Homo sapiens: one gene and its partners. The protein of the gene in region 2 purifies or fractionates together with the protein of the main gene of each other region. This does not show direct contact. Each region holds a gene or a part of one and is shown on either strand. Other genes may lie near its edges.

Region 1 (6,903 bases), on a different chromosome or scaffold from region 2:
GTGGGGAGGAAGATAAAGGTGAGGGAGACTCCAGAGAGGGCAGGCTTCTTCAGTCTGCAAGAGCAACGGAAGAATTTCTAGGTGGAAAGGGGAACTCCCCCAAGCTAGAGAAGGAGGGAGTCTCAGGTTTCCTTTAATTCATTATTCTTTACACCGCAACACCACTCCCCACCCCACCCTGACCAGGTCCCCAGATGGGCACTGAGTCTAGGAAGGATCCATCAGCATCATTTATCCCTACTCCCAGTCCCCCACAGAAATCTTAGAAATCCAGTGTTCTGGTTGGCCGGGCGCGGTGGCTCACGCCTGTAATCCCAGCACTTCGGGAGGCCGAGATGGGCGGATCATGAAGTCAAGAAATAGAGACCATCCTGGCTAACATGGTGAAACCTCATCTCTACTAAAAATACAAAAAATTAGCCGGGCGTGGTGGCACATGCCTGTAGTCCCAGCTACTCAGGAGGCTGAGACAGGGGAATTGCTTGAACCCGAGAGGCAGAGTTGTGGTGAGCTGAGATCACGCTACTACACTCCAGCCTGGGCAACAGAGCGAGACTCCGTCTCAAAAAAAAAATGTGGTATACACAATGGAATACTATTCGGCCATAAAAAACAATGAAATCATGTCTTTTGCAGCAACATGAATGAAACTGAAGGCCATTAATTTGAGTGAAACAACTCAGAAACAGAAAGACAAATACTGAATCTTTTCACTTGTAAGTGGGAGCTAAATAATGTGTACACATGGACATAGCATGTGGAATTATAAACAACAGAAACTTGGAAGGGTGGGGAGGTGGGAAGGAAGTAGATGATGAGGAAATTACTTAACGAGTACAATGTGCATTATTCAGGCTATGGATACAGTAAAATGCCTGACTTCACCACTACACAATGTATCCGTGTAACAAAATTACACTTGTGGCCTGGCACTGTGGCTCATGCCTGCAATCCCAGCACTTTGGGAGGCCAATGCACATTATTCAGTTGATGGATACAGTAAAATGCCTGACTTCACCACTACACAACGTATCCATGTAAAAAAATTACACTTGTGGCCTGGCGCTGTGGCTCATGCCTGTAATCCTAGCACTTTGGGAGGCCAATGTACATTATTCAGATGATGGATACAGTAAAATGCCTGACTTCACCACTACACAATGTATCTGTGTAACAAAATTACACTTGTGGCCTGGCATGGTGGCTCATGTCTGTAATCCGAGCACTTTGGGAGACCAAGGCAGGTGGATCACTGGAGGCCAGGAGTTTGAGACCTGCCTGGCCAACGTGGTGAAACCCCATCATCTCTACTAAAAATACAAAAATTAGCCAGGTGTGGTGGCACACGCCTGTAATCCCACCTACTCAGGAGGCAGAGGCAGGAAAATCGCTTGAACCCGGGAGGCAGAGGTTGCAGTGAACCGAAATCACGCCACTGCACTCCAGCCTGGGTGACAGAGTGAGACTCTGTCTCAAAAAAAAAATATTATATTTGTACCCAATAAATTTATATGAAACAATTAAATGCTTCTGAGATCTGGCTTAATGGTTGCTCAGCCTGCATTCTGGTTCCACATGTAGGTCTGCTTGTGAAAACTCATTACAGTGTTCACCCCTGGTCTGTGTACCCTTCTGTATTTGTGTTACACTCCAATCTGAGGTTTACATTACAATAGGTCAAACCTGTGAATAAAACCTTATATTGGCTCCGGCACTGGGCAACGCAGTAATCATTAAATTAATGCTGAATGAACAGACAACTGGCTGGGAGTGGGACACGGTAGCAATAAGATGGCCTCTTAACTTTTGAGGTCTCCTGAAAAAGTGCTAGTCCAGAATGATTCACTTTCCAGATGAGCAGGAGACACCCACCCCAAGGTCACTTACTGCAGGTTTTACAGACCAGTTTAAGAAACTGCCTAAGATCAAGTAATTTAGTAAATGGCAGAGCCTGGATATGAGTCCAGGTAGTCAGGCTCCAGAATCCAGACTTTTGCCCACTACTTTATAGTGTTTGGGGGCACTACTGGCGACAGACCCTTTTGTCTCCCTCTCAGATCCAGACAGGCAGAGGTCCTGTCTTAAATCACTCTTGTGGGTTGGACAGGTCTCCTGGACACCCGGGAGTGGGAGAGCCCTGCTGCCCGAGGAGACTGGGGGTACATGAGGATGAGCACCTGACTCTGCTCGAGAAGGAGTAAGGGAGGGAAGGGGATGCATGGTGGGACCTTCGCTCCTGTCTGTCCCCTCAGGGCAAGCTGGGGCTGACGGAACCTCAGACCAGCCAGTCACTTCTTAATGAGCTCACAGCTGGACTGGCAGGCAGACAGAATATCCGTTTGGTTAACTGTATAACTGTTTGGTTGACTACAGAACTCATGGAGTGACAGGGAGAAGGCGCAACTTGAGGACGTGACAGCGCAGTTTCCTGAACATCTAACTGAATGACAGCCTGCCTAGGACTGGCTGGGGCTGGTAGCCTGACAGTGGAAAAGACAGGCAGCCTCCTGAGGACCTTGCAGGCTGGCTGACTGATGGCCCGTGGTGCTACTGCCTGCCTGGGTGGCCGGATGTTGTGAATGACTATTGTCAGGAATCACAGCTGGCGGGGGAATGTCTAGATGTTATACTGTCTGGCACCGTGTAAAGGAGGGCCACCTGGGGAAACTTCAGGCTAACTGATCAACAGACCCGTGGCTGCTTGCTAGGCAGCTGTATCTGGTGATCAACTATCCACGCTGCTCGAATCACAGCATGCTGGAGGGCCTGGCTGGGTGCTCTGACTGACTGATCACCTGACAGACGGTGCGGTCAGTCGGATGCTGAGAATGACTGACGATGTGATGAGGGGCGGATTGAACGAGTCACAGGCCAGCTGGCCAGGAGCAAAATCGGCATAGCTGTCTGACTCGATGGCTGTACGTGGTTACGGACTGTCTGCCCTGATAGAATCTCAGCTTCAACGCATCAGAGGAGACTGACTTGACCAATGGTGGGGATGAGTCGCCTGAGAAATGACAGACTGGCTGACCCACTGACAGGTGGTGTGGAGGCTTAATCCTACCTCTAGTTGCTGTGACTATTTGCTTTGAGGGCCTAGCTGGATGTTGTGACTGATCGTGGTGTGAATGAGAAGTAATCTGAGGGAAAGACAGTGACCAACTGATAGTGCCCGACAGGGCTGTATTAGATGCTGACAGTGACAGCTTGTCCCGACCTAATCACAGCCCGCCTGGGGGCATGGCTGGATGCTGCAGTCTATGAGAGGATTTAGCCAGGGAGAATCGCAGCTGGTCCCAGGGCTATGGTGGGTGGAGAGGAGGACTGATTGATCTGCTGACAACGTGAGGACAGGATGGTCTTAGGGAATGATAAGGCAGGCTGGCTAACAGTGCTGTCTGCCTGCCTCCAGGGAGTCGCCGCTGGCCAGGGCACAAATGGAAGCCAGTATTGACTGCCCAGCAGTGTGGATGGGGGCCGGGAGTCTGACTAGGCACCTGTCTGGGGCGACCGCCTGAGCAGTTGGATACGGCACTAGTCCACCTGGGAGCCCCGGCCTGCTTGGGGTTAAAATGAGATGACGGGCTGACTGACGGTGATAACAGGGAGTATGACAGGACTGAGGAACCACTGCGACTGGCTGATAACGTGATTGGCTAGCAGTGTGACAGACAGACCAGCGCACGGGCAGGGCCTCTGGCAACTTTAGCTACCGCCGCTGTCGCTCCCGCTGCCGCCGCCGCCCAGACGCACTCTGGGAAAGCGCGGCGAGCACCCGCCTCCGGGACCGAGCCGGGCGGCAGGGAGGGGTTCGGTCACGGCTCTCCGGTTGGTCCGCGCGGGTGCTGCGAGTCGGGAGCCGCGGCCAATAGGCTGCGCGTTCCCGGCCACGCCCGCGCGAGCGCTCTTCTCGCGAGGCCGGCTAGGCCCGAATGTCGTTAGCCGTGGGGAAAGATGGCGGAAAATTTAAAAGGTGAAGCAGTGGAGGCAGAGGCGCGGGCCCGCTGGCCGGGCCGGGTGGGCTGGAGGGGTGGCGTTGCCGGCTCGGGGCCCCGGCGTCCGAGGCCCCGGCGCCGGGAGCCGGAAGCTCGGCGCGGAAAGGATGAGGCTCGGGGAGCGCGGGCCTGGTGCGCGGGGCTGGGCGGGGCTCAGGGGAGGGGGCGCGCGCCTCGGAACGCAGCGGGCCTGGGGCTAAGTGGGGACGCAGGAGGGGGGCGCGCGCTGCAGATCGCGGCCGGACCGGCGCGCGCACGCGCGGGGGCTTGTCGAGGAGGCCGCGCCCGCGCGCGGGAAAATCGGCCCCTGGTGACCGTTACCCATTCGGTGTCCACGCGAGACGCCGGAAGGGGAGGGAAGATAAGGGGGACAGACCCCCCCTTCAGAGTGCGGGGACTGAGAACTCTTCTGGGGGAAAGTATCGCCTCTCGGCGTGATGGGGGAAGGGTTTGGAATAGAGGATCTCCCAGAAGAGAGAAATGGGGCCTTCCTAATAGGACAGCTGGACTCCCCCATGTGCAGGGAAAGAGGGGTGACTCAGTTATGTTGGGGGGCCCCTCTATGTGACGAAAGCCGCAGGGAGGATGGGTTCCACAAGTGGGAGGACCTCTGAGGGGTTCAGGAGAGTCCACCTGTGGCCAGTTCCGGAGCCAGCAGCTGGAGGGTGTTAATTGGGACCACTTAAGTGGGGTTTCAAATGCAAGTGAAGGAAGGGGTTTGCGAGGACAGGCTGTAGGGAGAGGAAAGCGTGGGCACAGGCGGGCTCAGTCTCCACTTGGTCTTGCCTAAGTAGGGGGGGTAGGGCTTGCACACGAAATAATTTTGAAAAGCTCTTGTACGTTTTTAGGTTGACATCTAAAGTTTAGGTGTGATTTTTGCAATGGGAGGCAGAAAATATTAAACATTTTAAAAAGATGATATAGGATGAGGACTGACTGCCCTTGGAATGTTTTGAGACATGATTTGATAAAATGGCTTCTAAAGTACTTTGATTAAGAATGTGCCTTGAATCAGAAAGAAATCTGTTTTTTAAAATCCGTGTGTCTTACAAAATTTTGGCAGTCCCAGAAATATACCAGGTATATTTAAAAGAATCAGTGTCACTAATCTGTACCGCTTTGCGTATAAATTCAGAGCATAACCCTTTGGATGAGCTTTACTCTTCACAGAAAGATGGATGAGACAGAAAGTCAAAATGCAGTGTGAAAAAATATACCTTGTGGATTTAAGGCACCCAGATTGATCATTTAAGGAGCCTTCCTGTAATGTAGTATCATTCCACAATCTCTTGCTCATAATTCCGAAATCTAAAAAGCCCTGAAAACTGAAATCCTTTTCTTAAATTTGGCACCATTTATGGCAAAAGTAGATTATAAAGTGGAACTCTTCTGTGAGGCTATTTTATATCTCTATTTCTCCTATTTAATGTGGGAAATTCATACTTTTGCTGCAGGACGGTTAATGCATTTGATTATAGCTTGATGTCCCCTGGCCACGCTGGGGGTGTTAGGTGATGTATGGGATATCCTAGAACTAGTCTTGTAAAATCCAAAAAATTTTGAATTCCAAAACACATCTGGCCCAGGAGTTTGAGATAAGGGATTAAAGACCAGTCTTTCCAGTTACGCCTTTGTTTGGTGCCCTGGAGGTTTTAATCTTGTCCTCCCATCCGCCCCACCTCGGGGCACTGCATCCTACTGAGATGGGGGGTTGTTCTCTTTCTTTTGCAAAGTGGAGAGAGGGGTGATCAGGTCCTGAACCCAAAGCAGGTTTGCAGGCAGTTTTAGGAATGACATGGAGTTTGAAGCTCTGGAAATAGATTCCTTTAGGACAATTCATGTTGCAAACCCCGCTTAGAGGTCTGCTGCTCCAGGGGCAGCTTTGGGCAGTGAGTATTGGGGTTCAAAGCACATTTCTGTTGTAGAACAGTCTCAGCACTGGGGAAGGCCTGTGGATTAAATTTCCCTGACTCTTAGTCAGTCTTTGGGATGTCCCAGGGAGGATTTGGGGTCCCCTTTGACTCCTGGCCTAGTCAGGCTGCCCAGTAATAGTTCTTTCTGCCCCGCTTGATCCAGGCTGCAGCGTGTGTTGCAAGTCTTCTTGGAATCAGCTGCAGGACCTGTGCCGCCTGGCCAAGCTCTCCTGCCCTGCCCTCGGTATCTCTAAGAGGAACCTCTATGACTTTGAAGTCGAGTACCTGTGCGATTACAAGAAGATCCGCGTGAGTCTGGGGTGACCATGCTCTGGGAGGGGACAGGTCACAAGGAAGTTAGTGTCCTGCCCTCTTGTCCCCAACTGCCCACATCTGTTTCCAAAGGGAATTTTCTCCTTTGACCCTGAAAACACAGGATGAATAGACCCTTTTATCCCTATGTTACAGATAGGGAAACTAAGTAGCTTTCTGGGCAGGAGCCGGAATGAATTCCCAAATAAATCTCTTCCCATCTCCCTAGGAATACAAAGTAATTGCAGAGATTGAGATGCTGAACCCTGGAGTGGAAATGTCAATAGCTAATGGCTATTGAGCACTTTCAGTGTGCCAGGCGTTTCCTCTCGGAAACTCATTTAATCCCCTAACAACTGAAATGGGGATAGTTATTGCCAGAAGGGGGAGTGGCAGGATGGTTAGGAGAACAAACTGGAGTCAGCATGCTTGGGTTCCAGTCCTGGTTGTGTTACCCCAGGCTACCTACCCAAACCTTCAGTACTTCATTTTCCTTGTCGTAAAAGAGGGATAACTAGGAGCATCTACCTCATGTGGGGTTGTGAGGATTAAGTTAGTTAATAATACATGTAAGCTGCCTAGAACAGGCAAGGACTTGTCAGGGTCCAGGTGAGCCAGGGTGGTGGCAGTGATGATGGTTTGTCACTGGACGTATTTTGAAGGTGGGGCCAACGGGATGTGCA
Region 2 (7,746 bases):
GAAAGAAGAGGAAACAAGCTACACTGAATGATGGTTCAAGACCACCAAGTGTATGGCCAAACTGCCTGGGTCTGTCACTTTTTAGCTGTGTAGCTTTGGGAAATTTATTTCTGTGCCTCTGTTTTCTCATCTATAAAAAAGGGACAATAATATTAGTTCTTACCCCATAGGATAATTGTGAAGTTTAAATGAATTAATAACTGGCAAGTGCTTAGAACAGTTCCTGGTATGTAGCAAGTATTCAACAAATATTGTGTGTGTGTGTGTGTTTAGGGAGTAGTATGTCTAAAATTTTTAGCTCAGGTTAGGTGATACCATAATGAAATGAGTTTAGAACATGATGAATTTCAATTATCTGGAGGAACCCTTCACTTCTCCACACCTCAATTTCTGCTGTCTTAATTGAAAATAGGCACTTAGGGTGGTCCCAGGAAACTGTTGAGCAGGTGAAATGAGCACAGGTGAAAATGTGGTCAACAAGAGAGAATTTCAAGGACTTGGCAGTTCTGGCGCTTGGGCTGTGTTTCCAGCCTCACACACAAGGTTCTGGTTTGTACTTTTTAAATGAAATGTAGATTCAATAACTAGTACAGTTAGTGTAAAGACACATGAACAAATTAAAGCAATGATAAGACGCTGTGGTAGTCAATAAAGCTGGTTCATCAGACACACCAGGTTCTCCCTCCTCCCAGAGGTAAGATAACTGCTCTTCCTGGCCCCCTGGTGGTTGTGTAGGACTTTGTGATTCATTCAGGTCAATGAGTTGTAAAAATCAGTGTCTTGAGTCATTTTGTTAATATGAGTCCCTCTAGCATTCTTTCCCTCTGGTATTACTACTCATCAGTGTGGGTTTCCCCAGTAGCTATCATTAGCAGAGCCCCACCATACCTTCCAGAGATGATTATGTAGTGTGAGCAAGAAACACGCCTTTTTTTTTTCTTTTAAGCCACTCAGATTTTGGAGTTGTTTCCACAACATAACCTAGTCTATCCTGATACTGATACTATTTTAATACATATCAAGTTCTTAAAAATTAAGTAGTTAACACCCAGTACTAATAGGGGTGTGGGGAAACACTTTCAGATTTGCTAGTGAGAGTAATAATTGTTACAACCTTTTAGAAAGGTAATTTGACCGCAGATTCTATTAAAATGGAAAAAAAGGGGCCGGGTGCAGTGGCTCACACCTATAATCCCAGCACTTTGGGAGGCCGAAGCGGGCGGATCACCTGAGGTCGAGTGTTTGAGACCAGCCTGTCCAACATGGAGAAACCCCATCTCTACTAAAAATACAAAATTAGCCGGGCGTGGTGGTGCATGCCTGTAATCCCAGCCTCTGGGGAGGCTGAGGCAGGAGAATCGCTTGAACCCCAGAGGCGTAGGTTGTGGTGAGCCGAGATCCTGCCATTGCACTCCAGCTTGGGCAACAAGAATGAAACTCTGTCTCAAAAAAAAAAAAAAAGGCCAGGCGCGGTGGCTCACGCCTGTAATCCCAGCACTTTGGGAGGCCGAGGGGGGCAGATCACGAGGTCAGGAGATCGAGACCATCTTGGCTAACACGGTGAAACCCCATCTCTACTAAAAATACAAAAAATTAGCCGGGCGTGGTGGCGGGCGCCTGTAGTCCCAGCTACTCGGGAGGCTGAGGCAGGAGAATGGCCGGGTGCAGTGGCTCACCGCTATAAAACCAGCACTTTGGGAGTCCAGGGCAGGTTGATCACTTGAGGTGGTGGGTGGATCACCTGAGGTGGTGGGTGGATCACCTGAGGTCAGGAGTTCGAGACCAGCCTCGCTAACATGATGAAACCCCGTCTCTACTAAAAATATAAAAATTAGCTGGGCGTGGTGGTGGGCACCTATAGTCCCAGCTACTCGGGAGGCTGTTGCAGGAGAACCCAGAGGCGTAGGTAGGCTGTGGTGAGCCGAGATCCAGCCATTGCACTCCAGCCTGGGCAACGAGAATGAAACTCCGTCTCAAAAAAAAAAAAAAAAAAAAAAAAAAAAAAAAAAAAGGCCGGTTGCGGTGGCTCACGCCTGTAATCCCAATCCCAGCACTTTGGGAGGCCCAGGAGGCGGAACCCGGGAGGCGGAGCTTGCGTGAGTCGATATCGCGCCACTGCAGTCCAGCCTGGGCTACAGAGCGAGACTCCGTCTCAAAAAAAAAAAGGAAAAAAAAGGCCTGGCGAGGTGGCTCATGCCTGTAATCCCAACACTTTGGGAGGCCAAGGTGAGCAGATCACAAGGTCAGGAAATTGAGACCATCCTGGCTAACACAGTGAAACCCCGTCTCTACTAAAAATACAAAAAATTAGCCAGGCGTGGCGGCACGCACCTGTAGTCCCAACTACTCAGGAGGCTGAGGCAGGAGAATCGCTTGAACCCAGGAGGTGGAGGTTGCAGTGAGCCGAAATCGTGCCACTGCAGTCCAGCCTGGGCGACAGAGCGAGACTCTGTCTCAGAAAAAAAAAAAGAAAAGAAAAGAAAAAGAAAGAAAGGGCCGGGAGCAGTGGCTCACGCCTGTAAGTAATCCTAGCACTTTGGGAGGCGAGGCGGGTGGATCACTTGAGGTCAGGAGTTTGAGACCAGCCTGGCCAACATGGCGAAACCTCGTCTCCACCAAAAATACAAAAACTAGCCGGGTGTGGTGGCAGGGGCTTGTAATCCCAGCTACTCGGGAGGCTGAGGCAGGAGAACTGCTTGAACCCGGGAGGTGGAGGTTGCAGTGAGCCGAGATCGCACCATTGCACTCCAGCTTGGGTGACAAGAGCGAAACTCAGTCTCAAAAACAAACAAACAAACAAAAAAAGGAAGGCTCGGCGCAGTGGCTCACACCTGTATGTAATCCCAGCACTTTGGGAGGCCGAGGTGTGACGAGGCCAGCCTGGCTAACACGGTGAAACCCCGTCTCTACTAAAAATACAAAAAATTAGGCGGGCGTGGTGGCACGCGCCTGTAGTCCCAGCTACTCGGAAGGACGAGCCAGGAGAATCGCTTGAACCCGGGAGGTGGAGGTTGCAGTGAGCCAAGATCGCGCCATTGCACTCCAGCCTGGGCGATAGAACGAAACGCCTTCTCAAAAAAAAAAAAAAAAAAAAAAAAAAGGAAAAAAGCACATATTATTTTACTCAAATTCCATTTTGGGAAATCTTTTCTTTTTGTTTTTTGTTTTGTTTTGTTTTTGAGACGGAGTCTCGCTCGGTCACTTAGGCTGGAGTGCAGTGGCGCGATCTCCTCTCACTGAAGCCTCTGCCACCGGGGCTCAAGCGATCCTCCCCCCGCCTCAGCTGCGGAGTTGCTGGGACCACAGACGCGAACTACCACGCCTGGCTTTTTTTTTTTTTTTTTTACCTTGTATTTTTAGTCGAGATGGCGTTTCGCCGTGTTGCCCAGGCTGGTCTGGAACTCCTGGGCTCTAGCAATCCTCCCGCCTCGGACACAAAGCGCCCGGCCTGGGGAATCTTTTCTACAGAAATAAAAGTACTACTTCAAAAGGATGTTTATTTTTATTGTTGCGCTATTTGTCGGGGCTGAGAACGGAAAACAATCTAAACAATCTAAACTATTCAGGTGTCAAAAATACAAGTTATTGGTTTTTTGTTTTTTTGTTTTTTTTGGTTTTTTTGAGACGGAGTCTCGCTCTGTCGCCCAGGCTGGAGTGCAGTGGCGCGATCTCCGCTCACCGCAAGCACCGCCTCCCGGGTTCACGCCATTCTCCTGCCTCAGCCTCCCGAGTAGCTGGGACTACAGGCGCCCGCCACCACGCCCGGCTAACATTTTTAGTACAGACGGGGTTTCACCGTGTTAGCCAGGATGATCTCCATCTCCTGACCTCGTGATCCGCCCGCCTCTGACTCCCAAAGTGCTGGGATTACAGGCGTGAGCTACCGCGCCCGGCCAAAAATACAAGTTTTACCTTTTTTATTGGCTTCAGGTAATGTCCACATGTTAAATGAAAACAACAAAAATCCAAATACAGAAACTCGTACATACAAGACTGGAAAATGAAGCTGTATTACCTGAAAGGAGCGGAGTGGTGATGGGGCAAGAGAGAATATTATCACGTTTTTCTTATTACATCTTGATAGCCTTTACAATTTGTATCACTTATGTAACAAAACAAACTCAAGTAAAACTGAGAGAATAAAGCTCTGAACCTATGAGCGTTTCCCTAAGTCTTTACACAATGAATATAGTAATGGGGCCACTAGTCGAGGGTGGTAGGAGCGGCGGAGACTCGGTAATATACTGGCCACGCCTACTCTGCCCTGCCAGTCTCTTCTCACGTGTGCCCCTGGAAGGCTCTGCCTTAACGCATGCGTAGTTACCTTAGTTTTCGTCGCCTCTGAGGGGCGCCCCGCGGCTTTGGATTTGACCCCGTCAGGCTACCGTCGCGGTGACCGGAACGGCACTAAAGGTTTGCTTCCGGGCGTTTCTTTTGCTTCCCCTTCCCTCTTTCACGCTTCCTCCCCTCCCCCTCCTCCCTTATCCCTTCGCTTTCGCTCTTTTCCGTCGAGGCCGACCCCTGAGTTGTGAGTCTGGGGTCTGGTTGGTGAAAAAGAGCCCTTGAAGCTGGAAGACGGGAGGTGCGGGGAATACTGTTGAGTTATTTGGTGACCAAAGGCTTATCTGGGACGTTTTGTTTGTGGGAGGGGGTCGGGCGAGGGTGGGAAGGAAGTCTTCCCCAGAGGCGAACGGGGGCGGGGCTGAACTGGGTTTGCGAATGGGTAGGACGCACCCCTAGAATGGGTAGCACGGGGGTGGGCTGGTGTGTGGGCAGAGGAAAATGGAGGCGCTGAAAATCAGATTTTCTTTAACCGTTTGATTAAAAAAGCAGTTCACACGAATGTGTGAAGTATTTGGATTGTGGATATTAGGTACCCACGTTTTATTCCCAGGTTGCTTTACTTCTCTGTACTTTGGGGGAAACCTTTTTGCTGCAAGCTTTCGTGTGTTTGAATATCATAGACTTTTTAAAAAGTAAAATTCCACATGGAAGCAAAGTAATATAAGGGGAACAAGTAATGAAAGAGAAAACACTGAGTTAGTGAGTTCCAAATCAACTCCATCCCCAGGTGGGGTTTTGTTTAAATTAGGCATAGCATACAAAGATTTATCACATTAGTTAAGGAACACATATAGACCACAAAAATATCTTATAGATTGGTTCTCTTCAGTATCCCAAAAGATTATTTTTAAAGTTCGGTTTGTTTTGAGACAGGGTCTCACTTTGTCACCCAAGCTGGAATGCATGGCGCGAACATAGCTCACTACAGCAGCTACTCCTGGGCTCAAGCGATCCTCCCACTTCAGCCTCCTGAGTAGCTGGAACTAAAGGCGTGCACCACCACACGTGGCTAATTTTTGTATTTTTTTGTAAAGACGAGTCTTGCCATGTTGCCCAGGCTGGTCTTGAACTCCTGCCCTCAAGCGACCCTCCTGCCTCGGCCTCTAAAAGTGCTGAGATTACAGGTGTAAGCCACTGTGCCAGCCCAAAACATTATTTTCAGTAGCTCTCTACTGCTTAATGAATGTTCTCCATGCCGTCTCAAACTCTTAAATCTTTTTCAGGAGTGTTAGCGTACAGCAGAAGATAAGAACTCTTAAAAATCTCAGCATCAGATTCTGGAGAATAGGGAGGGAGAACATGGAATATTTGAATAGAATAACAGGCAGCAGAGTAGGAATTAGTTTTATTAGGGAACTGAAATTCTCTATTGATTGATTGTAGTTATAAGGACTCCAATTTAATTTGTTTTCTGTTCCATGCAGAGGACAAAAGCATGTCTTCCCTTCCTGGGTGCATTGGTTTGGATGCAGCAACAGCTACAGTGGAGTCTGAAGAGATTGCAGAGCTGCAACAGGCAGTGGTTGAGGAACTGGGTATCTCTATGGAGGAACTTCGGCATTTCATCGATGAGGAACTGGAGAAGATGGATTGTGTACAGCAACGCAAGAAGCAGCTAGCAGAGTTAGAGACATGGGTAATACAGAAAGAATCTGAGGTGGCTCACGTTGACCAACTCTTTGATGATGCATCCAGGTGAGAACTCCATGGAAAATAGAAGGAAATCTCTCCATTGGGAGATGTTTTTAGAGAATAATTGTTCATGACATTGAACCAAGCATTTTATTTTATGTTTTGAGACGGAGTCTCGCTCTGTCACCCAAGCTAGAGTGCAGTGGAGTGATCCTGGCTCACTGCAACCTCCACCTCTCGGGTTCAAGTGATTCTCCCACCTCCCCCTCCCGAGTAGCTGGAATTATAGGCATCCGCCACCACACCCAGCTAATTTTTTATATTTTTAGTAGAGACAGGGTTTCACCATGTTGGCCAGGCTGTGTACCAAACATTTTATACTTTATGAAGTACAGATGTTTAGAACCTTACTCTTCCTCAAAGTTTATGGTCAAAAATCTGACCTTACAATCAGCCGTAAATATAATTTTCATCTGTCAGCAGCTAATACATGATCAGCAGTAAGGGAGTCCAAGTCTTAAGTCCTTTCCCCTTCTTCCTCCTGTGCTCTATCTTAGAACAATTGCTTCATTTCCCTAGTAAGATCATCCAGGGAGTGAGGATTGTAAAGAATTTCTGTCTTACGTAACTCTGAAGCATTAGTAAGTTCCCATACCCCCAAAAGATTTGTTTCTGGTGCTCTAGTTGTCACTTAGAATACATTGTTTTTAAATTTATTATACTTTAAGTTCTAGGGTATATGTGCACAACGTGCAGGTTTATTACATATGTATACATGTGCCATGTTGGTGTCACTTACATTAGGTATATCTCCTAATACTATCCCTCCCCCTTCCCCCCACCCCACGACAGGCCCCAGTATGTGACGTTCCCCATCCTGTGTCCAGGTGTTCTCATTGTTCAATTCCCACCTATGAATGAGAACGTGCGGTGTTTGGTTTTCTGTCCTTGCTATAGTTTGCTCAGAATGATGGTTTCCAGCTTCATCCATGTGCCTACAAAGGACATGAACTCATCCTTTTTTATGGCTGCATAGTATTCCATGGTGTATATGTGCCACATTTCTTAATCCAGTCTATCATTGATGGACATTTGGGTTGGTTTAAAGTCTTTGCTATTGTGGATAGTGCCGCAATAAACATACGTGTGCATGTGTCTTTATAGCAGCATGATTTATAATCCTTTGGGTATATACCCAGTAATGGGATTGCTGGGTCAAATGGTATTTCTAGTTCTAGATCCTTGAGGAATCGCCACACTGTCTTCCACAATGGTTGAACAAGTTTACAGTCCCACCAACAGTGTAAAAGTGTTCCTGTTTCTCTACATCCTCTCCAGCACCTGTTGTTTCCTGACTTTTTAATGATCGCCATTCTAACTGGTGTGAGACGGTATCTCATGGTGGTTTTGATTTGCATTTCTCTGATGGCCACTGATAATGAGCATTTTTTTATTTTATTTTTATTTTATTTTATTTTTTTTTTAGACAGAGACTTGCTCTGTCTCACCCAGGCTGGAGTACAGTGACGTGATCTCGGCTCACTGCAGCCTCCGCCTCCCGAGTTCAAGCAGCTCTCCTGTCTCAGCCTCCGGAGTAGCTGGGACGACAAGCGTGTGCCACCACACCCGGCTAATTTTTGTATTTTTAGTAGAGATGGAGTTTTACCATGTCGGCCAGGCTGGGGAGGTCAAATTCCTGACCTCAAGTGATCTACCTGCCTCAGCCTCCCAAATTGCTGGGATTGCAGGTGTGAGCCACCACTGCCAGCC
Region 3 (7,389 bases), on a different chromosome or scaffold from region 2:
CCCGTAATCCCAAGCACTTTGGGAGGCTGAGGCAGGCAGATAACGAGGTCAGGAGATGGAGACCATCCTGGCTAATATGGTGAAACCCCGTCTCTACTAAAAATACAAAAAAATTAGCCGGGTGTGGTGGCGGGCGCCTGTAGTCCCAGTTACTTGGGAGGCTGAGGCAGGAGAATGGTGTGAACCCAGGAAGCGGAGCTTGCAGTGAGCCAAGATTGCACCACAGCACTCCAGCCTGGGCTACAAGAGCAAGACTCCGTCTCAAAAAATAAAATAAAATAAAATAAAATATAAATATAAATAAAAAAAAGAAAAGGCAAGCCAATAACTGGTAACACTTTTCACACTCTTCATCTTGAACTTATCAAAAAAAAGTTTGAGTTTCTTCCCAGGTCTGCTTCTTCCATGGCAAACAGAGGCTATGAGGCTTCTTCCAATTCTGGTTGACTTGCAGAGTAATTTTCTTGAAATTGACACCTTTTTTTGAATTGAATTAGTTCACACCTTTTTCTTTTTTTCTTTTTGTGACGGAGTTTCACTCTTATCTTCCAAGCTGGAGTGCAATGGCGTGATCTCGACTCACTGCAACCGCCGCCTCCCAGGTTCAAGTGATTCTCCTGCCTCAGCCTCCCAAGTAGCTGGGATTACAGGTGCGGGCCACCATCCCTGGCTAATTTTTCTATTTTTCATAGAGACGGGGTTTTACCATGTTGTCCAGGCTGGTCTTGAACTCCTGACCTCAGATGATCCACCCACCTCGGCCTTCCAAAGGGCTGAGATGACAGGCATGAGCCACCGCGCCTGGCCAACACCATTTTTAAATGGGGGGATTTCACATGGAAATCCAAATGTGTAGAGTTTTTCTTTTCAAATTAGCATATTTTACTTTTTAAGGTGTACAATGTGATGTTTTTCAAATAAAATGTATCATGTAGGACATGATGTTTTGAAATATGTGTACTTTGTGGAATGGCTAAATCAAGCTGATGAACATATGCATCACCTCACATTTTTTTGGGGGGGTGAGAATGTCTGTGCTCTGAAAAAAAAATGGGCAGTTCCGGCAATACATGGAAGCCATCCTCCACAGCTAAAAGGCAGAAACCGTCTGTTTTTTGTTTTGTTTTGTTTTTGTTTGTTTTTTTGAGACAGGGTCTTGCTCTGTTACCCAGGCTGGAGTGCAGTCATGACTATGGCTCACTGCAACCTCTGCCTCCCGGGTTTAAGTGATCATCCCTGCCTCAGCATCCTAACTAGGTAGAACTGCAGATGCGTACTAACACACTCAGCTAACTTTTTTTTTTTTTTTGAGACAGAGTCTCGCTCTGTTGCCCAGGCTGGAGTGCAGTGGCACGATCTCGGCTCACCGCAACCTCTGCTTCCCAGGTTCAAGCGATTCTCCTGCCTCGGCCTGGGACTACAGGCATCTGCCACCATGCCTGGCTAATTTTTTTTTATTTTTAGTAGGGACAGGGTTTCACTGTGTTAGCCAGAATGGTCTTGATCTCCTGACCTCAAGATCTGCCCGCCTCAGCCTCCCAAAGTGCTAGGATTACAGGTGTGAGCCACCGTGCCCGGCCCACACTTGGCTAATTAAAAAAAAAAAAAAAAATTGGTAGAGGCAGTCTCACTATATTGCCTAGGCTGGTCCCCAACTCCTAGGCTCAAACAATCCTCCCACCTTGGCCTCCCAGAATGCTGGGATTACAGGCATGAACCACCGCGTCTGGCCAAAAACCACCTTTGGACAGGGAATGGACACTCCGGCTTTTCATATTTTGTCCCCACACGGAGACACATTAAAGTAGAGTTTTAAACAAATGAATTATTTCTTGTAACCTAATCTTTATTGAAAGAAGAAAACAGGGCCAGGTGCGATGGCTCACGTCTGTAATCCCAGCACTTTGGGAGGCCGAGGCGGGCGGATCCCGAGGTCAGGAGATCGTAGACCATCCTGGCTAAGACGGTGATACCCCATCTCTACTAAAAATACAAAAAAAAAATTAGCCGGGCATGGTGGCAGGCACCTGTAAGCCTCAGCTACTCAGGAGGCTGAGGCAGGAGAATGGCATGAACCCAGGAGGCAGAGCTTGCAGTGAGCCAAGATCAGGCCACTGCACTACAGCCTGGGCGATAGAGCAAGACTCCGTCTCAAAGAAAAGAAAGAAAGAAAGAAGAAAACAGAAAGATAGAAAAAGAAAGTGTAACTTTCTTTGAGGAAGTGAAGAAATATTCAATGGTGTTTCATATAACTACAAATTAGGTCTGTTGAAAGAATATGTTACCCAGGCTGGAATGCAGTGGTGTGATCACAGCATACAACAGCCTTGAACTCATGGCCTCAAGTGGTCCTCTCACCTCAGCCTCCCGAGTAGCTGGGACTACAGGCATTTGCCACCATGCCTGCTGGCAAGTATATATCTTAAGTGAGAATTACACAATTCCTGAGGACATCTGACTTTGCCAACCCTCATTTAGTTTATCTGAACCCAACGTTATTGGTGAGATTGAACAACACTGAGTTTCCTTTGAGCTTTGAGCTGCTGTAATAAATTCTCTATAGAGTAGCAGCTATCTGCTTCCGATTTTACCTTCGGGGGTTTTTACTTAATTGACATATTATTTATTTATTTATTTATTTTTGAGACGGAGTCTCACTCCGTCGCCCAGGCTGGAGTACAGTGGGGCAATCTCAGTTCACTGCAACCTCCGCCTCCCAGATTCAAGCGATTCTCCTGCCTCAGCCTCCCGAGTAGCTAGGACTACAGGCGTGCGCCACCAACCCTGGCTAATTTTTGTATTTTTAGTAGAGACAGGGTTTCGCCATGTTGGCCAGGCCAGTTTCGAACTCCTGACCTCAAGTGATCCGCCCGCCTCGGCCACCCAAAGCGCTGGGATTACAGGCGTGAGCCACAGAGCCCGGCCGACACCATTTTTAAACGGAAAGATTTCATATGCAGATCCAAATTTGCAGGGTTTTTGTTTTGTTTTGTTTTGTTTTTCCAATTAGCACTTTTTGGGGGTTGTGTTTTAGGGCGTACCATGTGCTGTTTTTCCAGGACGTCGTGGTTTGTGCAGACCTGGTAAGACCTGATAAGTCCTGAAAGAAGTAGCCAAAATTTCATGTACTCTTCACAGAACCAGCTCTCAAAGCCTTTTCTGTCTCACCGGATCAACCCTGCAAGGGGACGAGGGTGGGGCGCAGGCGGCCGAGAGCCTTGCTGAGAATCACACAGGTGGTCAGTGGAAAAGCGTGTACCAGACCCAGGCCTCTCTGGAAGGTGGGCAGAGGAGGCGTTCGGCGGGAGAGGTGGAAATGAAAACGGGAAATCTAAAGAGAGGTGGCGGACTAGAAGGGGCAAGGGACGTGCAGAGGAAGATAGAGATTGAGGGGTGGTGATAGGGTAGTGTAAGCAGCAGAAGGGAAGGGCAGGGGACTGCCTCGAGGAGAAGGGGCGGCGGCAGCACGTCAGGGGCTTTTGGGGAATCTCATTCAACAAATGGCAAAATGGAGCCCAAGTGGTTTGCCCAAGGATGTCCAGCAGTTGGCAAGGTGGCAACTAGAACCCGCGTCTCCTAATCCCGGTCCAGGGATCTTTCTTCGCCTGTCACAGAGACAAGGGGCCAGTGCAGCGCTAGTGCGGAGAGACAAGGCTCCAGGCACGGAAAAGCAGATGCCGGGCCGGGGTTCCAGCGCCGCAGTCACGGCGGTGGACGGCAAGCTGTGCGGACGACTGGGGGCGCCATGAATGGTCGAGGATCCGGGGAGCCGAGTCCAGATCTTCCTGCAAGTGACCCCGAAGCGGCAATGGAACGGTGGCCGAAGTCTGCCCACAGCTTCCGCTTCGAAGGCGGCGTCGGAAATGCCGCGCCAGTATCCAGAGCCCTTCGGAACCTCCCGAGAGATGGTCAGGAGCTTTTGGAAACTTTAGGTCAGGGGCCAGCGACCAAAAGGCTGGTATTTCGGAACGGCTGCGTCTCCCGAGAAACCTCCAAGAGTATCTGAGGTTGCCGGAAAATGGTTAGAGAGCAGCCGAAATCAGCCGAATGCCATTCGGGATGCTCCGGAGCTTCTCGAGGCACATTCGGGCCCTCTCGGCTCTGCAAGACTGCACTGGAATCTTAGGTCTCCTTTCGTCGCCTAATCTTAGCAGATCCTTTCGTCGCCTAAATGGTAAGAGCGACTTGTACCGACAGTCCCTCGGCAATTTCCGGAAGTGTTCGGGATAGGCCCGAGCGTGGCGCCCTCTGGCGGCGGCCAGAGGTGGCGGGGGGCGGGGGGAGGTTAGTGGGCCAGCGCGCGCAGACGCAGTTGCGCGCCGGCGGCCGTTCAGACCGGATGTGGTTGTGGCTGAGGTCAGTTCCGGCGGGTGACGGTGCGGACGGGTCAGGAGCGTAGAGGCGGCGGCAAAATGGCGGCGCCTGAGGAGCGGGATCTAACCCAGGAGCAGACAGAGAAGCTGCTGCAGTTTCAGGTAGCAGCGAGTACTCGGTGCAGCAGATGCCTCCGTGGGATGGGGAGTAGGCCCCTAGAGGAGTTCAGAACCCTCCTCAGATTGGGTTCAGATCCTTCTCAGACCAGCAGGCCGGCCCCCTCCCCCCCAGACTCCAACTGCCCTGATTCCCCCGGCCCCCAAGCCTCTGTTGGACCCTAGCCTTCCAGCCATCGCTGCGGGCAGACCCGCCTCGTCTGTGCCTCTGTGCCCTCAGCGTGTCAGCTTCCCTGGTTTGCCTTAGCGGCGTCAGTCCTCAGCCATCCTTCCCAGCCCGGTTATCGGTCGGACCCTCTCCGCCCAACGAGTCTATATCTGCCGGAGAAGCTTAGTCCCCACCGCGGAGTTGGCGTCATTTCGGGTCTCTGACAGGAAAACCTCCTGCCAGCATCCCATGCCATTTCCACATACACTCCCACAAACTGGGGCCTCTTGGATACCAGGTTTCGTGTTGGGGGTTCCGGTCGGGGAGGGGGCACCTACACACAGATCTGGTCCCCGCCCTAGAGGTGTGGGAGGACACCAAGTGAGGAAACAATGCAAGATGATAAGTGTCATCAGTGGTCTGTCGGGATTTATTACTTTTGGCTTATTCCTGGATTCCTGTGCTTAACTATGCTTGAGGAGGGTGGTAACTTGCAGAAATGTTATGTTAATACAAGATGTTGTATTAAGAACATTTGCCACTGATCACTTACCCCTGAGCTGGAGAATGGTTGGAGGATACCACTAGGGTGGGTAACCTTGGCACTTTGTTACCAGTTTCCTTATCTCTGAAAGGACTGTCTTAAAAATGTCTACCCCCAGGCCAGGAGCGGTGGCTCACGCCTGTAATCCCAGCACTTTGGGAGGCCAAGGCCAGCGAATCACGAGGTCAGGAGTTCGAGACCACTCTGGCCAATATGGTGAAACCCCGTCTCTACTAAAAATACAAATATTAGCCGGGCGTGGTGGTGCACGCCTGTGGTCCCAGCTACTCGGGAGGCTAAGGCAGGAGACTCGCTTGAACCCGGGAGGCGGAGGTTGCAGTGAGCCGAGATCGTGCCACTGCACTCCAGCCTGGGCAACAAGAGTGAAACTCCGTCTCAAAAAAAAAAAAATCTACCTCCTGAGGATGTTCGGGAGATCAAATGGACATATGGATGTTAGAAGGGCCTTGTAGACTGCAAAATGCCCCCAAATAGTATTTTCTGCTATTAATTTGACTTAGGATAGACCTAAAGTTATTGATACACTTATTTCCTTATATAAAATGTGTAAATATTCATTTATTCAACTATATGAAGAACCTTAGTGCGCAGCGCTGCTAGGTAGAATCCCACTTACTATTTCAGATGTAAGTACTTTGTAAACACTTAGCATACATAACCTCATTTAATACAGCAACCCTATGAGGTTCATACTGTTCTAGTCCCTGATTTACAGATGAAGGGTATCAGGACTAAGAAATAAAATGCTTAGGTTACACAGCTAGAAAATGATGGTGTCAGATTTAAAGCTATGTCCATCTTCCAGAACCCTTCCCAGGCTTCTGACTTCTGTCTTGTGCAACTTATATTTCAGTGTACAGTTGAGTGTGGAATGCAAATGCTGAGAAAATAAATATTTTTTTGGCGAGTTCTCACTTTTTTGCAATTTCCTTGAATAGACTTCACTATAATAAATTTTGAAGTGGTTATTTTTTCCCCTCTTAAATTGAGCAGTGTGTTGGAAGTGTATAAATGGAAAAATGCTGTCATAGATGTAATTGACATTTGATTGGAATTTTTGGTAGAGAAATTGAATTGATGACCCAGCAAATTATTATTAGAGAATGAGTTAAACAGACAACCAGCTTACACTTCCAGGTAGACCACCAATTTCAGAGTGTTGTTTAACTTTGGCAGACCATTTTACCCCTTAGAACTCTTCAGGGGTAAGCTAACATGTGGTTTAAGTGCAATGAAGTAATGTGAGTTATAAATTATGGTATATTTAGTCTCATACTGGAAGAGCATGAATATAAATCTATGATAGCATTTCTGAAGTAAAGTGCATAGGAACCTCCATTTTATCTTCTGTGGAGATCTTTTTTTTTTTTTTGAGACGGAGTTTCGCTCTTGTTGCCCAGGCTGGAGTGCAGTGGCGCGATCTCGGCTCACTGCAACCTCCGCCTTCCAGTTTCAAGCGATTCTCCTGCCTCAGCCTCTCGAGTAGCTGGGACTACAGGCACGCGCCACCACATCCAGCGAATTTTTTGTATTTTTAGTAGAGACGGGGTTTCACGATGTTGGCCAGGATGGTCTCGATTTCTTGACCTCGTGATCCGCCCTCCTCGGCTGGGATTACAGGCGTGAGCCGCCGCGCCCGGCCAAAACTGTGGAGATCTTTATTAGAAGAGAGGTGGGTAGCAGGTTCGAGCTGTATTAAGATTGCCTTATGAAATTGGATTTATTGAGGGAAATGCATCTTTCATTTTTCTATTCTATAAGCAATCGCTGGATCAGATTCATTATCCAGACTGCCATTAAACAAACAGTTGTTGAAACTTATTAGATGCCAAGCATTATACCAAGCAGCAGTTGATGTACATTAACTCTTTTTTTAAGAAAAATATTTTAGACCATGTGTGGTGGCTCATGCTTGTAATCCCAGCACTTTGGGAGGCCGAGGCAGGTGGATCACCTGAGATCAGGAGTTCGAGACCAGCCTGGCCAACATGGCAAAACCTCGTCTCTACTAAAAATACAAAAATTAGCCAGGCATGGTGGCATGTGCCTGTAATCCCAGCTACTAGGGGGGCTGAGGCAGGAGGCTCACTTGAACCCGGGAGGTGGAGGTTGCAGTGAGCCAAGATCGTGCCACTGCACTCCAGCCTGGGCAACAGAGCGGGACTCTGTCTCAAAAAAAAAATTTT

Evidence for each region.
Region 1: the proteins of SETDB1 (region 2) and SUV39H1 purify together in Homo sapiens (affinity purification with mass spectrometry; 4 studies listed by BioGRID and IntAct, with this or other methods). This does not show direct contact.
Region 3: the proteins of SETDB1 (region 2) and FAF2 purify together in Homo sapiens (affinity purification with mass spectrometry; 5 studies listed by BioGRID and IntAct, with this or other methods). This does not show direct contact.

Annotation. Positions count from the first base shown.
Region 1 is NC_000023.11:48,692,831-48,699,733, forward strand, and holds the start of SUV39H1 (histone-lysine N-methyltransferase SUV39H1), read left to right. Parts: upstream 1-3,903; 5' UTR 3,904-3,954; coding exon 3,955-3,973; intron 3,974-6,071; coding exon 6,072-6,217; intron 6,218-6,903. UniProt on the Homo sapiens protein: Histone methyltransferase that specifically trimethylates 'Lys-9' of histone H3 using monomethylated H3 'Lys-9' as substrate. Also weakly methylates histone H1 (in vitro).
Region 2 is NC_000001.11:150,921,936-150,929,681, forward strand, and holds the start of SETDB1 (histone-lysine N-methyltransferase SETDB1), read left to right. Parts: upstream 1-4,427; 5' UTR 4,428-4,582; exon of another isoform or gene 4,583-4,609; intron 4,610-5,768; 5' UTR 5,769-5,779; coding exon 5,780-6,039; intron 6,040-7,746. UniProt on the Homo sapiens protein: Histone methyltransferase that specifically trimethylates 'Lys-9' of histone H3. H3 'Lys-9' trimethylation represents a specific tag for epigenetic transcriptional repression by recruiting HP1 (CBX1, CBX3 and/or CBX5) proteins to methylated histones.
Region 3 is NC_000005.10:176,443,996-176,451,384, forward strand, and holds the start of FAF2 (FAS-associated factor 2), read left to right. Parts: upstream 1-4,389; 5' UTR 4,390-4,412; coding exon 4,413-4,475; intron 4,476-7,389. UniProt on the Homo sapiens protein: Plays an important role in endoplasmic reticulum-associated degradation (ERAD) that mediates ubiquitin-dependent degradation of misfolded endoplasmic reticulum proteins.